Regions from separate parts of the Homo sapiens genome. Here region 2 is linked to region 1. The links come from fine-mapping of genetic effects on plasma protein levels. Region 1 holds a variant in brackets. A gene starts in the other region. All regions are shown on their forward strands.

Evidence for each region. A credible set is the group of variants that fine-mapping cannot tell apart. PIP is the chance, under the fine-mapping model, that this variant and not a neighbour inherited with it causes the effect. The UK Biobank Pharma Proteomics Project read protein levels with antibody pairs (Olink). The fine-mapping took linkage between variants from a reference panel, not from the people measured, so its PIPs are less certain.
Region 2: it holds the start of SKAP1, and the variant in region 1 is the best candidate, but not a certain one, in a credible set for the plasma level of the SKAP1 protein (UK Biobank, PIP 0.87).

What each region holds. Positions count from the first base shown.
Region 1 is chr16:30,637,022-30,645,351 of GRCh38, forward strand. No RefSeq gene overlaps it. Among named protein-coding and RNA genes, the nearest start is that of PRR14, 9.8 kb to the right of the region's middle. The variant A/AT (reference allele first, on the strand shown) is at 4,282.
Region 2 is chr17:48,427,007-48,435,336 of GRCh38, forward strand. SKAP1 (src kinase associated phosphoprotein 1) reads right to left here and starts at 3,208. Exons shown (of 13, transcript NM_003726.4): 1 at 3,069-3,208. The coding sequence starts at 3,114. RefSeq lists a silencer at 3,122-3,381.

The sequences.
Region 1 (8,330 bases):
GTGTGGTTGTGTGAACCTGTAATTCCAGCTGCTCAGGCGGCTGAGGCACGAGAATAGCTTGAACCCAGGAGACAGAGGTTGCAGCAAGCTGAGATCGCACCACTGCACTCCAGCCTGGGTGATAGAGTGAGACTCAGTCTCAAAAAAAAAAAAAAAAAAACCACATTTCTGCCCAGGCGCATTGGCTCATGTCCATAATCCAGCGCTTTGGGAGGCTAAGGTGGGTAGATCACCTGAGGTCAGGAGTTGGAGACCAGCCTAGCCAAAATGGTGAAACCCCTTCTCTACTAAATACAAAAAATTAGCTGGGCGTGGTGGCAGGTGCCTGTAATCCCAGCTACTCAGGAGGCTGAGGCAGGAGAATCGCTTAAACTGGGAAGGCGGAAGTTGCAGTGAGCTGAGATCGTGCCATTGCACTCCAGCCTGGACAACAGCGAAACTCTAAAAAAAAAAAAAAAAAATTAGCCGGGCGTGGTGGCATCCGCCTGTAATCCCAGCTACTCAGGAGGCTGAGGCAGGAGAATCACTTGAACCCAGGAGGTAGAGCTTGCAGTGAGCCAAGATCGCACCATTGCACTCCAGCCTGGGCAACAAGAGTGAAACTCCATCGCAAAAAAACATAATAGTAAGGCCGGGCGCGGTGGCTCAAGCCTGTAATCCCAGCACTTTGGGAGGCCGAGGCGGGCAGATCACAAGGTCAGGAGATCAAGACCATCCTGACTAACACGGTGAAACCCCGTCTCTATTAAAAATACAAAAAATTAGCTGGGTGTGGTGGCGGGTGCCTGTAGTCCCAGCTGCTCAGGAGGCTGAGGCAGGAGAATGGCATGAACCTGGGAGGCGGAGCTTGCAGTGAGCCGAGATCGTGCCACTGCACTCTAGCCTGGGCGACAGAGCAAGACTCCATCTCAAAAAATAATAATAATAATAATAATAATAAATAAATAAAATATATTTCCCCAAGGTTCAAGCCTCCACCCTCTTTGCCTTGGTTTCAATATACTGTAGGCCAGTGATTCCCAACTGGGGGTGACTGCTCCTAGAGGGCATTTGGCAATGTCTGGAGACATTTTTGTTTGTCACAAATGGGCAGAAAGACAGGGAGGAGACGTAGGTGCTACTGACATCTAGTGGGTAGAGGCTAGGGATGCTGCTATTAATACTACATCCTACAATGCACAGGACAGCTCTTCACAGGAATTATCTGGTCCAAAATATTAATTGCTCTGAGGTTGAGTAACCCCCTTCTAGGCCAACACATCTAAATGGCTGCTAAATATTTTCACATGATTATTGGGTTATGAGTTTATTTTTCCTAGAAACTTTCACTGACTACTCAATTAGACTTCCCTCCTGTTACTAGCAATATTAGACCTAATGTCCCAAAACATGGGTGTTATCTGAGTCCTTCCTTTCCATGCTTTTCCCTGCCAGTCCTGAGAGTCCATTATGTACTGGTAGATTAGGATAAATCAGTTATTTTATTTAAAAATGTTCATTCTGAGGCCAGGCACAGTGGCTCACGCCTGTAATCCCAGCACTTTGAGAGGCCCAGGAAGGCAGATCATCTGAGGTCAGGAGTTCGAGACCAGCCTGGCCAACATGGTGAAACCCCATCTCTACTAAAAATACAAAAATTAGCCGGGCATGGTGGTGGGCACCTGTAATCCCAGCTACTGGGGAGGCTGAGGCAGGAGAATCACTTGAACCTGGGAGGCGGAGGTTGCAGTGAGTTGAGATGGCACTATTGCACTCCAGCCTGGATGACAAGAGCAAAACTCTGTCTCAACAACAACAACAACAACAACAACAACAACGGACCGGCGCAGTGGCTCACGCTGGTAATCCCAGCACTTTGGGAGGCTGAGGCGGGAGGATCACCTGAGGACAGGAGTTTGAGAGCAGCCTGGCCAACATGGCGAAACCCCGCCTCTACAAAATAAAATGAAATAAAATAATACAAAAATTAGCCAGATGTGGTGGCAGGCGCCTGTAATCCCAGCTACCTAGGAGGCTGAGGCAGGAGAATTGCTGGAACCCAGGAGGCAGAGGGTGCAGTGAGCCGAGATCACACCACTGCACTCTAGCCTGGGCGACAGAGCAAGACTCTGTTTCAACAACAACAAAAATAAATAAATAAAAAATTGTCCTAGCAGCCGGATGCGGTGGCTTATGCCTGTAATCCCAGCACTTTGGGAGGCCGAGGCGGGTGGATCACGAGGTCAGGAGTTGAAGACCAGCCTGACCAATATGGTGAAACCCCGTCTCTACTAAAAATACAAAAATTAGCTGGGTGTGGTGGCAGCCACCTGTAATCCCAGTACTTGGGAGGCTGAGGCAGAGAATTGTTTGAACCTGGGAGGCAGAGGTTGCAATGAGCCAAGATCATGCCACTGCACTCCAGCCTGGGCAACAGAGTGAGATTCCATCTCAAAAAAAAAGAAAAGCAAAAATTATCAGGGTGTGGTGGCAGGTGCCTGTAATCCCAGCTACTCGGGAGGCTGAGGCAGGAGAATTGGTTGAACCCAGGAAACAGAGGTTGCAGTGAGCCAAGATTGCACCACTGCACTCCAGCCTGGGCAACAGAGCAAGACTCCTTCTCAAAAAATAAAAAATTGTCCTAGCATGGTGGTGTGCGCCTGTAGTCCCGGTTACTTGGGAGGTGGAGGTGGGAGGATCCCTTGAGCCTGGGAGGCAGAGGTTGCAATGAGGTGAGATTGTGCCCCTGCACTCCAGCCTAGGCAAAAGAGTGACACCCTGTCTCAAAAAAAATAAATAAATAAAACAAGAAAACAGAGTCAGGTGCTCATGCCTATAATACCAGCACTTTGGGAGGCCGAAGTGGTAGGACTGCTGGGGTCCAAGAGATCAAGATAACCTGGGTAACAAAACAAGACCCTGTCTCTACAAAAAATTAAAACATAAAAACTTAGCTGAGCGTGGCAGTGCGTGCCTGTAGTCCCAACTACTCAGGAGGCTTAGGCGGGAGGATCGCTTGAGCCCAGTGGCTAGAGGCTGCAGTGAGCCATGCCTGCACCGTTGCACTCCAGCCTGAGCAACAGAGCAAGACCCTGTCTCTTAAAATAAAAATTAGGGCTGGACGTGGTGGTCATGCCTATAATCCCAGCACTTTGGGAGGTGAGGCAGGTGGATCACTTGAGGTCAGGAGTTCAAGACCAGCCTGGCCAACATGATGAAACCTGTCTCTACTAAAAATACAAAAATTAGCTGAGCATGCTGGTGTGCACCTGTAATCATGAAAAGTCAGGATTAAAACCATGCGTATATGTTCGTGTTTATATAAAAAATGAATTTAGATTCTCTACTCAGTTATTAACCTGTTCTCATGTACATGGATGGCCATGGGGCATTCTGCAAATGATGGTGGAGGAGGGACAGTTTTTCACTAAGTGAGACTGTCTGGCACTGTGTAGGACACAACTGATCCCCATGGGTTAACCCATTAATGCCAGAGGTCCTCCATCACTCACTGCGACCAAAACACCCCCTCCTAAAAATTCACAAAACAACCCCTAAGGGGTGGCACTGCCCCTGAGGAGAGCCACTGCTTTCAGGCCACGGAATTAGAGCACAAGGTTCAGCATCTGAGGCGGGATCTGCAGGGATTGGGAGGTGAAAGGATTATTCAGGACTCAGGGAAGCTCAGCTTAATTGGAAGAAAAAGGTAGTGGGGAAAAAATGGGGGGTACAAGCATATGACAACTTCAATATGACAACTTCACCAAATCTCCTAGCAAAGCCCTACCCAAGCATTACATACTGACATATACATTACTTAAATTTTTATTTTTTTGAGATGTAGTCTTGCTCTGTTGCCTAGGCTGGAGTGCAGTGGTGCAATCTCAGCTCACTGCAACCTCCGCTTCTAGGTTCAAGAGATTCTCCTCCCTCAGCCTCCTGAGTAGCTGGGACTACAGGCATGCACCACTATGCCCAGCTAATTTTTGTATTTTTAGTAGAGATGGTGTTTCACCATATTGGCCAGGCTGGTCTTGAACTCCTGACCTCGTGATCCACCTGCCTCGGCCTCCCAAAGTGCTGGGATTACAGGCATGAACCACTGCGCCCAGCCAAAATATATATATATAGAGAGAGAGAGAGAGAGAGAGAGAGAGACAGGTTCTGGCTCTGTTGCCCAGGCTGGATTGCAGTCGTGGCATCTCAGCTCACTGCAACCTCTGCCTCCTGGGCTTAAGCCATCCTCCCACCTCAGCCTCCGGAGTTGCTGGGACTACAGGCTCACACCACCATTCCTGGCTA[A/AT]TTTTTTTTTTTTTTTAGAGACAGGGTTATGCCATATTGCCCAGGCTGGTCTCAAACTCCTGAACTCAAGCAGTCTGCCTGCCTCAGCCTCCCAAAATGCTGGGATTACAGGCGTGAGCCACTGCTCCCAGCGTATTTAAAAAATTTTTTAAAGAATAATGTAATACAGAAAAGTGCACAAACCCTAAGTGTAGGCTCAATGCATTGTCACAAAGTAAACACACCCATATCAAGAAACCAGTACCCATATCAAGAAACCAAAACATTGGCTGGGTGTGGTGGCTCATGACTACAGTCCCAGCCCTTTGGGAGCTGAGGCTGGGGAGGAATGGGTGAGGCCAGGAGTTCAAGAGGAGCCTGGACAACAGAGTGAGACCCCCTCTCTACAAAAACAAAACAAAACAAAAAATATATACATATATATTTAGCTGGGCATGGGGGTTCACACCTGTAGTCCCAGCTACTTAGGAGGCTGAGGTGGGAGGATTGCTTGAGCTCAGGAGTTCAAGGTTGCAGTGAGCCATGATCGCAACACTGCACTCAAGCCTGGGCAACTGAGCAAGACCCTCCCTCCTTTTTTTTTTCTTTACTCTACTTCTCTCCAGCAGAGACCCTGTCTCTACAAAGCAAAACAAAACATCTGTAGCATCCTAAAGGCTCATGTCCCTCCTAGTTACTACCCTACCACAAGAGTAACCACTAGTTCAATTTATTTTTCTTTATTTTCTGTTAGAGATGGGAGTCTTGAACTCCTGGCTTCAAACAATCCTCCCATCACAGCCTCCCAAGTAGCTGGGGTTACAGTTGTGAGCCACCATGCCCACCGTGTAGTTGTAACATTTATTTTTTATTTTATTTTTATTTATTTATTTTTTTATTTTTTGAGATGGCGTTCCGGTCTTATTGCTCAGGCTGGAGTGCAATGGTGCGATCTCGGCTCACTGCAGCTTCCGCCTTCCGGGTTCAAGTGATTCTCCTGCCTCAGCCTCCCGAGTAGCTGGGATTACAAGCATGTGCCACAACATCCAGCTAATTTTGTACTTTTAGTAGAGACGGGGTTTCTCCATGTTGGTCAGGCTGGTCTCAAACTCCCAACCTCAGGTGATCCACCCATCTCGGCCTCCCAAAGTGCTGGGATTACAGGCGTGAGCCACCGCGCCCAGCCTGTAATATTTATTTATTTATTTATTTATTTATTTATTTATTTATTTATTTATTTTTGAGACAGAGTCTAGGCTGGACTGCAGCAGCACGATCTTGGCCCACTGCAACCTCTGCCTCCCCAGTTCAAGCAATTCTCACACCTTAGCCTCCTGAGTAGCTGGGATTACAGGTGCACACCACCATGCCCAGCTAATTTTTTGTATTTTTAGTAGAGACGCAGTTTTGCCATGTTGGCCAGGCTGGTCTCAAACTCCCAACTTCAGGTGATCTGCTTGCCTTGGCCTTCCAAAGTGCTGGGATTACAGGCATGAGCCAATGTGTCCAGCCTATATTGACTTTTAAAAGTAGTATTATAGATGTTTTATTTATCTATTCATTAATTTCATCAGAGTAAAAGGAGTGTTCAAAACTTTTTTTTTTTTTTTTGGCCGGGCACAGTGGCTCATGCCTGTAATCCCAGCAGTTTGGGAGGCCGAGGTGGGCAGATCACGAGGTCAGGAGATTGAGACCAGCCTGGCCAACATGGTGAAACCCCGTCTCTACTAAAATACAAAAAATTAGCTGGGCATGGTGGCACGTGCCTATAGTCCCAGCTACTCCGGAGGCTGAGGCAGGGGAATTGCTTGAATCCAGGAGGCGGAGGTTGCAGTGACCCGAGATTGTGCCACTGCACTCCAGCCTGGTGACAGAGCGAGACTCTGTCTCAAAAAAGAAAAAACAAAACAAACAAACAAAAAAAACTTTTTTTTTTTTTAAGACGTGTGGCCAGGCCCAGTGGCTCACACCTGTAATCCCAGAGCTTTGGGAGGCTGAGGCAGGAGGATCACTTGAGCCCAGGAGTTCAAGACTAGCCTGGGCAACATAGCGAGACCACCCTTATCTCTATAAAAATTTTTCTTTTTTTTCTTTTTTTTTTTAAGGCAGAGTCTTGCTCTTTCGGGCAGGCTGGAGTGCAGTGGCATGATCTCAGCTCACTGCAACCTCCACCTCCCGGGTTCAAGCATTCTCCTGCCTCAGCCTCCCAAGTAGCTAGGATTACAGGCTCGAGCCACCACACTGGGCTAATTTTTTGTATTTTTGTTAGAGACGGGGTTTTGCCATGTTGGCCAGGCTGGTCTTGAACTCCTGACCTCAAATGATCTGCCCACCTCAGCCTCCCAAAGTGTTGGCATTACAGGCATAAGCCACCGCACCCAGCCCAAAAATTGTTTCTTAATTACCCGGGTGTGGTGGCATGTGCCTGTAGTGTTAGCTACTTGGGAGGCTGAGGTGGCAGGATCACTTGAGCCTGGGAGGTCAAGGCTACAGTGAGCTATGATCACGCCAATGCACCCAGCCTGGGTGACCAAGCCAGACTCTGTCTCAAGAAAAAAAAGGCATGTGTTAGCTCTGATGGGCTGACAACCAAATTATCTACATTCTCCTCAATTTCTGCCCCTGGATCTCTGCACTTGCAGTGATGACTGATGCACAGTCTTCCTTCCCAACTCCCTTTCCTTAAAGTCACATTGTTCATCACCTTCTCTGGGAAGCATTCTCCTGTAGCTCTGCAATGTGCCCTTTTGGGAACCTGTACATAAGTTGAGTTGAGCATTTATCTCATCGTGTTGGTCTATTTCATTGTCTCTGAAGACAAGGACGCTCACTGTCTTGTCCACCATAGTGTTTTTGTGTCTGGCTCATTGCTGGAGTTCAACAAATGTACTGAACAAATAAATAGACACCTCAGCCCATATTTAGAGCCCTCCTGCCCCCACAAAAACCTTGACTGTCCCATGTTTAGGCCTTCCTCTTTCTCTAGAGCAAAGGTCACAGTGGTGTGAATCTGTTTTCTGTCTCTTAGACCTCAATGCCTCAGCATTGCCACTCTAGCCATGAGTATTGATCTCCAGACACCTCTATCTGGAAATTTTTTTTTTTTTTTTTAGAGACAGGGTCTCACTCTGTTGCCCAGGCTGGAGTTCAGTGGCTCCATAAACAGCTCATTGCAGCCTTGACCTACCGGGCTCAAGTGATCCTCCTGCCTCAGCCTCTGGAGTAGCTGGGACTCCAGTTGCAGGCCACCATCCCCGGCTGGACTCGCTTTCTGAATGTTGCCTAGATCTGGCCTCCACATGAAAGTATAGGATGCCAGGAATCACCTTTAGACAAGCTGGCAGCTGCCCAGCCCAGCTTCCTCCACTTCATCTGAGCCATCTGTCCTCAGAGGCACCATCAGTGCTCATTTTCTTTTTTTTTTTTTTTTCAGGTGTGACAGCAGCATTCAAAACGACTTTAAGGATTATGTCTGCAATGCAGACTTTACACCTCTCCTGCAAATGGCCCATCCTCTAAAATATCTGCACAGTAATTGCAAGTGGGGACTTTCAAAATTCAGATATTCCATTTTATTTAATGCTGAAACACTAGTACCTACATTTGTTGGTGATGATTAAGTCTGGGTCAAATCAAGACAGAGAAACCACATGGTAATTTGAACAAGGAAAGGTTTAATATTTTAAAAAAATCAACAATAGCCAAGTGCAGTGGCTCATGCCTGTAATCCAAGCACTCTGGGAGGCCGAGGCGGGCAGATCACGAGTTCAGGAGATCGAGACCATCCTGGCTAACACGGTGAAAACACATCTCTACTAAAAATACAAAAAATTAGCTGGGCATGGTGGTGGCAGGCACCTGTAGTCCCAGCTACTCGGGAGCCTGAGGCAGGAGAATCTCTTGAACCCAGGCGGCAGAGGTTGCAGTGAGCTGAGATCATGCTACTGCACTCCAGCCTGGGTGACAGAGTGAGACTCCATCTCAAAAAAAATAATAATAATATAACAATAACAGAGGATTAGAGAAATGATTAGATTGTGTATTATTTTTCTAAAACTGACATAACAAAT
Region 2 (8,330 bases), not on the chromosome of region 1:
TTTTCCTGTTTACAGAAGTAATGCATGGTCATTGTCACAATTCAAACAACACAAAGATGTATGAAATAAAAATTAATAACCTCCCCTCCTCCAAACTCTCAGTCTTCTCTCAAGGAAGCCAATGTTAACAGTCTGGTATATATTCTTTTTTACTTATTCCTAGGCTTACACAAATATTTATAACATATGTGGCTTTTCTTGTTTTGTCTTTTGGTTTTCAAGCAAAAATGGGATATTACATGTACTATCATGCATTTTGCCTTTTAGTCTTAAAAATATGCCATGGACACTTTCCAAGCCTATATATAGATCCACAGAATACTCTTTTAGTGGCTGTGAAGTATTCCATGAGACAAATGTCCCATAATTCATTCAACCATCACCCTGAGTCTCCCAACTTATTAACATTTAGCATAGATCTTCGTGCATATACTACTTCATGACCTTTCACTTCAGTGACAGATTTTTAGAAGTGAGGTTTCTAGGTCGAGTGAAACATTTCCAAGTGTCTCAAATTTTATATTTAAACAAAATTAATTTTAGGCCTTGGGAATTTCTGTTCTCTTCATTATGCAAAATTTTGTTATCTACCTTTCACAATGCTTTACATATTTTATTCTTAAAAGCACACACATTATGTCAAAAAATGCCCCTGTCATTTATGCTTGTGTAGTTATAAATAAATAAATGCTTAAGTTATGGCTGTGATGTCCAGTGTTAAATCACTGTGCAAATGCTTATGCCTTGGTTTATGAAAGTAGTAATTCATTGTGGAAACCCCACCCCCACAGCCATGTGGCAGCACTAGAGTTGCAGCCCTCACATCCTGTGACTCCCTCCCACAGAGTGACTATATAGAGATCAGGACCTCCATTTTTTCTAATTGTCAACAGTTAACCTTAAAAAGTGTGTGGTGGGGGAGACAAATAGCAACAAACAACAAATTGATGGCCATTTTGGGTTTCTAATATGGACAGATTATTTGTAACACAATGAATAATCCTCCTGGTCTACACCAGCGACTGTGTTCCAAAAGAAATAAAACTTGTAACCAATATATTGCTATTATTATTACAGGAACCTTTAAAAAACATATCTTCAAACATTTTTCAATAGAATTACTGGATGAATCACACTTTACATTTTTTTCTCTACTTCAGATTCAAGTTCTAATTGCAAACTTAAAAAAAAAAGCCTTAAAGAAATACATTAACCAACGAAGCTCCTTATAATTTGGTTTCAGACTCCTCCATATATTTTAAAGACCTGAGCACCAACAGAGATTGTTAAGATACAGCAAGCTTGATACAGAAGTATGCGACATGCAATTAATCTCCATTCATACCCCGCTCTACTTGTCAGCAAACAAAGGTTCTGCTTTAGAAGGAGATCTGAAGACTTCAATTAAAAACAGTCAGCTAACAAGAAAATAATCTAAGCTAAAGGAAGGTGGCAGGTGCAGAAATGAGTTGTTTACCAAAGTGTCAGTTTTGAACAATGAAGAACTGCACATCAAAAATGCTGAAGGAATGGATTTCATTGCAAGCCTCTGAAAATAAAAAGGAATTTTCTACCAAGCCTAGACACAAAACTGAAGTATAGTTTAATAAGCTTATAAAATAGGTTTCCTCTCATCAAATGACAGATACCAATAAAAAGAATCAGTTTATATATTTCAATGCAAGGGCAGAGTTAAACTTTTTGCCACAGTCCCTTCTTTCCTAGAAACCAAAGACAATTACAGCCTTCCTTCACAAGCCTAATATTAAACCAACAACAGAGGGAAAGGCTGGATTGTTTCTTCTTAGACACCCAGATAATTCTCTTTTACCCTGCAAATAGTTTTCTACCCCCAAAATTTAGATTTATTCTGATCGTAAGTAAAACGGATTTTGGAAACCTCACCTCAAAAGAAATATCTAGCTGACAGCTTTTACATAGAAGCAATCCAGAATGGAAATAGTGCTACAGACAGAGACCAAAAGGACTTGCCAAATATTTGATTAGGAGGCATTTATACCGAGATAACAAGGTAATGGAGATATAAAACCAATTAAATTGAGAGAAACTGAAAAAAAATACTGCTTGCCAAAAATATGACCTGCCCAAAGCAGGCCGTCTGTTAAATATGTGTCAACTATGTCAACTTAGATGCCAAAAGGCTTAATTCTGAATAGTTTCCTCCTGGGAGCCTTATGCGACTGCAGATTCCAGGCCTCTGTCCTCCCTGGAAGGTTAGTTACAGGAAAGCAAGTAAAAGTGACTTCCACCACGAAACCCAGCAGATGAAACTGCCCGTTAGCAACGTCTCTTTGTGACATCTCTTTGGAGTGTTGGCAGTGTGTGTTGAGTGTTGACGGGGATGGCCGGAACTCTTTAAACCACCGCTTAGACACTGTAGTTGGAAGGTGAACACACCACAATGGGAGTTGGAAGGTGAACACACCACAATGGGGGCACTTCTAGAAAAGGAGGAAATCCCATACTGAGAATGAGCCTGCCTTGGGGTGGGTGAGACCCCTAGACGTCTGCAGGGTGATAAAGGGAGGGCTGGGGTTTTCGCACTGACAAAAACTCACGTCAACCACCTGGCCTTGGCCCATGGGGATCCCATGAGCCCCTCGCAGCCCCCTGGAGAGCCTCGGGGACCTCTAAGCAGGAAGGTTTGGGGTCTTCTGTGAGAGGTGAGGAAGTCGTGGCTGGGGAAGGAGGGGGACGGGAAACCCTACAGATGTAGGGCAGTCCTTTGGAGAAAGGGACAGGTCGGAGACCAGGCAAGGTGGCATGGGGGACCAAGAACCTGGCCTGAGGACTTTAGAAGCCGGGGAGGTGAAGTGGAGGCGTGGAGGTGCCTCAAGGCAAAAGAAGATGTGGGACTCCAGGGAGTGAAAGGGGCCCTGAGGTGAGAGGATGGAAAGCTGGCTCTAGGGAGTTGAGGGCTCTAGAAGCCTTAAGGTTCTAGAAGGAGGTGAGTGACGAAGCCGTAAAGAAAGCCTGGCCGTGGGAGGCCTGGTGTCCCCTTTCGGCCTTCGGCTCAGCACTGGAGGGGGCCTGCGCCAGGGCGTTACCTTCCAGGAGCCAACGGATCTCCTCAGGGAGGGCGGCGGCCTGCATTTGGCTGGGCGGGAGAGAGGCGGGACGGGGCGCGGGCCCTGGTCGGGAGGCGGACGGGCTGGAAGGCGACCCGGCTGCACCGCGAGGCACCTGTACCTCAGCCGCGGTCGCCGCCCGCCCAGCCCGGCCGCGGGGCGGGGCCGTGGGTCCCCGGGCGCGTCAGGAAGTGGCGCGGGCGGCAGGCGGGGACCGGAACGGGGCGCGGGGCGTGGGTGCACGTGGCGCTCACGCCGGAGCCCCACGGTAGAAGGATTGGGGGTGCCGGAAGCACCGCACCGTGCGAGGCCAAAGGTGCGCCCCTCCAGCACCCACCAAAACAAAAGACTTCACAAGGCTCAAAGGACCCACGGCTTTGGACACTCCATCCTAAGCACCGAACAGTTGACCTCACGGTGGCAGATTTGAAAGACCACGGGGTGCCTGAAGTAGGGTGCAGGGAGGCAGAATCCAAGGAAGAGATCCCCGTCAAGCATAGCACCCCTCAATTGCCGGTCCAGTTCACATCTCCATCCCCAGAAAAGAGGGCAAAACTTCGCTCTTTGGGAAGCCACAATGTTGAAAGGAAATGATTAATTCCCAATAAGCAATATAAGGACACCAACATTTGGGAGAATCGCGGCAGCGTGGCAGCAAGGGACACAGGAAACCAAACTGTGCTGTTCTCCCTCAGGATGGAAAGGCCCTGAGGAAAGGAAGGGGTAACACAGGGAGAAAGCTGAGGGAGAGGAGAACAGAGCCCTTTCCCTCCAGGAGCTGCGGAAGGGAGGAAAGTGAAGGACAAAATCACACGGTCTCATTCAAGGGACAGTTGGTGTCAGTGTCCTGGTTGTGACATGGTACTGTAATAGTGCCAGATGTTACCCTTGGGGGAAACTGGGTAAAGGTAGACAGAGTTCCTCTATTATTTCTGAAACTCTCTGTGAATCTATAATTCTCAAAATAAAGAGGTTTTTTAAGTACAATAGGTCAACTGCCATGAAAAAAGTATAAAGTGCTATGGTTGATAAAAGAAGGGAGCTGAATACCAGAAAAGGAGGGAAGAGGCCAGGCATTGTGGCTCACACCTGTAATCACAGCACTTTGGGAGGCTGAAGCAGGAGGATCACTTGAGCCCAGGAATCTGAGGTTACAGCCAACTATGATCACCCCAGTGTACCCCAGCCTGGGCAACAGAGCAAGACCCTGTCTCTTAAAAAAGAAAGAAAATAAAAAGAAGTGCCAGTGTGCATGTGAGTGTTTAAAGGTGCATGTGGTGTTTGAGATGGGCTCTGAAAAACACACCAGACTTTGAAGGGGCAGAGGACTTTCCAGGTGGAAGGACCAGAGTAAAGAAAGATGGAAGAGCCCTCACCAGCTTGAGGAATAGTTAGTAGCCCTCTTTTACTGGATGTTGTAGAAAGACTATGGTTGTCAAGATAAACTGCAGCTCTACTGTGAAGGGACTTGAAAGTCAGAATAGGAATGTTGAACTTAATTGAGAGGGCACTGGGGAGCCATTGACAATTTTTGAGATTGGGAATGACCTAACCAGAGCTCCGGGGTGGTATGTGGCCTCACACATCTCCACCTCTGCCTTTTTCCTTCTTTGTAAAAAATGGCATTTCTATTCTCAGACTCAACCTACAGAATATGTAGAAAAGATTAGGAGTGGTGGGAAAAGACACAGGGGGAAGTGGGTAAAATGGTTTTTACAACAGCCATAAGGGGAATAATGATGGACTCAATCTAGCAGACGGGGCAAGAGCAGTAAGAAGAAACCATCGAGAAGGATGAGTGTGATAAAAGTGCCTGCCTCCTTGTACTGTTTCCCATCCAGAGATACAGCCTCAAAGATGAGGGTGTGATCCTTTAAGGAGTACAGTGCATCCTGCCATCTGAAAAGCAGTGGTGCATTGGTTTCAGTGTCACATGACCCACCTACAAGCTGCAGTAAATTGGGGTGAGGGGACAGAGGCTGGCATGAGCCTCTCTGGGGTATCTGGCTCCTGCTCATCCTCCTTCCTGCCCTGAGAAAGTATAGTAATGGGTGGCTGGGCACAGTGGCTCACGCCTATAATCCCAGCACTTTGGGAGGCCAAGGCAGGCGGATCACGAGGTCAGGAGTTTGAGGTCAGCCTGACCAATATAGTGAAACCCCGTCTCTACTAATAATACAAAAATTAGCTGGGCATGGTGGTGCACGCCTGTAATCCCAGCTACTCGGGTGGCTGAGGCAGGAGAATCACATGAACCCGGGGGGCGGAGGTTGCAGTGAGCCGAGATCAGGCCATTGCACTCTAGCCTGGGTGACAGGGCAAGACTCCATCTCAAAAAAAAGAAAGAAAGAAAGAAAGAAAGTATAGCAATGGGCAGACTACCCCTTTCAGGCTTGGGATCAAGTACCAGGTACCCCCATGGCATTTTTACCAACTTCACCACTTCACCTATAAAATTGTAGCTGCTCTAGAATCATTTTGAAGTACTTATGAGGCATACTAAAAAGCAAGGAAAGATACATGGGAACTGTCTGTGCTATCATCTCAATTTTTTTTTGGTAAATCTAAACTGTTACACAAAAAATACAGCAAGGGCAGCAAAGTCTCCCCATATGTCAACCTAAACTTTGCCTTGCTTTCCTTCTTGGCAACAGAAGAAAATTTGATAACCTCCCCCTCTTCTTCAAGGATATGGTGTCACATACTAATATAAGCTACCAGCTAATGAATTGTTTGATAAAGAGCAGTAAACCCAGGTAATTGCACTTCTTTGCAGGCTTCACTGCCTGTCATAGCTTACTTACACCAAAAACTCACAGTGTACGTATTCTATATGCATCCTTCCTTACAAGAATCTCTGGGTTTTAGAGAGACAGGGGTAGAGGGAGGTGCACAGTCGGGTAGTATGTAGTGAGTGACTGGCAGATTCCAATACGGTATTGTCATGTTGCATCAAGGTTCCTCATTGCAGACAGAAATCTGCCTCCACACATGAACGCAGCCCTTCCTTAATCATCTGAGGACCCTGTTTCAGCAGTCAGCCCCACTCCTAATGACATTCTGTTAAATGGACAAATTCCTTTGAAGCCTTGTCCTTTTTTGAAATCCAATTTCGCAGGAAGCCAAATCTGATTGGGGGTAGCCATGGAAACCACATGGAGGAGTCTTAGAGGAGGTGAAGAGAGGCAAGGCAAAACGTGATAGTCACGAGTCCTTTACTGTTCTGTCAGAAATATCAAAGCAATCTGGAGAGGTTGGCAGTAGCTGAGTCCCTGCCTGGGTCCTGTTCTGTGTGGCTGGGTACTATGTGGCTGTCATGGAAGAAAGCAGCCAGCTGTCTCTGCACACAGGCAGGAGGACAGAACAGAATACACAAATCTCAGGTCTGTCTGCCTCCCTTTTCTTCCCGTCCCCCCCAGACCCAATTCCAGCAAGATCTTAGCATCCTCTTCTTAGCTGCCTGCCCCTTAAAGACAAACAACAAAAGAATGACAAGGTTAAAATACAAGGCCCTCACAGATAAGAGGTCCTTTGGAGCAGAGGCCATGAAATTAATCTGGAATTCCTTGTAATTAGATAAGATAAGGGGATCTAAAGAGATGTAGAACAGCCAGGAATGGAGTCCAGCAGCACAACATGCAGAAAACACACCGCCTTGTCCACCGGGACCCTTCACGCACTGTCAGCAGACAGAAGACACAGAAAATAGGGCCCATATTGGCCTCTGAGCTTCTTGGGAATGCTGTCTACATGTTCTCATGCCAGGTGGGCACTCGCTAAATAGGCATCTATGGGATGTCCAGAGGGACCAATCAGGAAGAAACAAAAGCATCTGGCACCCAGAATGGCATGCAGTGGGAACACAACTGCAAGCAAAGCAGGAGCTGGCTGGCACCGCTCTGCCCTGGCTGAAATGGGTCTGGAGAGGAAACTGCAGAGGGCAGGCTCTGAGGCTTTATTCTGAGCTGGTTATTGATCCCTGAATGCTGGGTCATGACATGTGGCGGAGCTGACGTCTGCCCTATGGATGTGCAGCCACTGCCTCTCAGCCTCTCGGTCCCAACCCCATCAACCGGGTTTATTGACTCTTTTATTGACAATGCTGGGGCCTAATGAGGCCAAGAGCTGCACACTTCATTAAGAGATGTGGAAGGAGAGATGATGCATCCTGTCGGTGCCAAGAACCAGGCTCACTGTATGTTTTGCAAGGCTCCAGAAACCAAGCATCATGCCACCTTGAAGGCAGAGGAGATGGACATAAGATGCTAACTTGGGCACGTTACTTCAGTGGCCTAAAAATGAAGTTTCCACGGCTTGCCAGAAGCCTTGTTCTTACCAATTAGCTAACTCTTCAACTTAGGAGGGTCCTGTTATACACACACTCACACAAATACACTTCCAATGGTCTCCCCTTCCAGCTCACACTCCTAGATTCTCTGCCTTAATACATACAACAAAATAAGCAGCTTCTCATATCACATCAGGAAACAATTCCATAAGCAGGTTCTCAGTGAGGTACAGGCTTGGAACAGTATGAGGGACTATATAAAAACTCAAAAGAATCTTCAAAGGGAGCAAATTCAAGATAAGGAACAGACCCAGCACTATACCCAGGGTCCCCCAGCTTACCAGGAGCTGTGCATTAGAATCAGGTACAAAGCTCTTGTAGAACTGAAAAATACCTAAGATAGATAGTTACAGCCTAGGGATCACTGAGCCACTCTACGAAGTCATCACTGTTGGCCCTCCTCCATCTAAATAGTAATGTTTCATTCCCAGCACTTTGGGAGGCCGAGGCAGGGGGATCACTTGAGGCAGGGGGATCACTTGAGGCAGGGAGTTGGAGACCAGCCTCGGCAACATAGTGAGACCCCTGTCTCTACAAAAAATTCAAAAATTTCAAAAATTAGCTGGGCATGGTGGCATAAGCCTGTAGTCCCAGCTACTCTTGAGGCTTAGGCAGGAGGATTGTTTGAGCCCAGGAGTTCGAGGTTGCCGTGCCACTGCACTCCAGCCTCGGCAACAAAGCTGAGACCCTGTCTGAAATAAATAAATAAATAGTAACATTTCTTTCTTTCTTCTTTATCTTATCTATCACTCCTCTTATTATTTTTTCTCTATTGTTCCCAATCCTTTTTTTTTTTTAATCTTCTTTACCTATCCTTTAGACCACATTAGATATCCCCGTTGGGCACTGCTGAGCCCAGCAGAGGACCTGAAGACCAAAGAGGTTGCTGACTC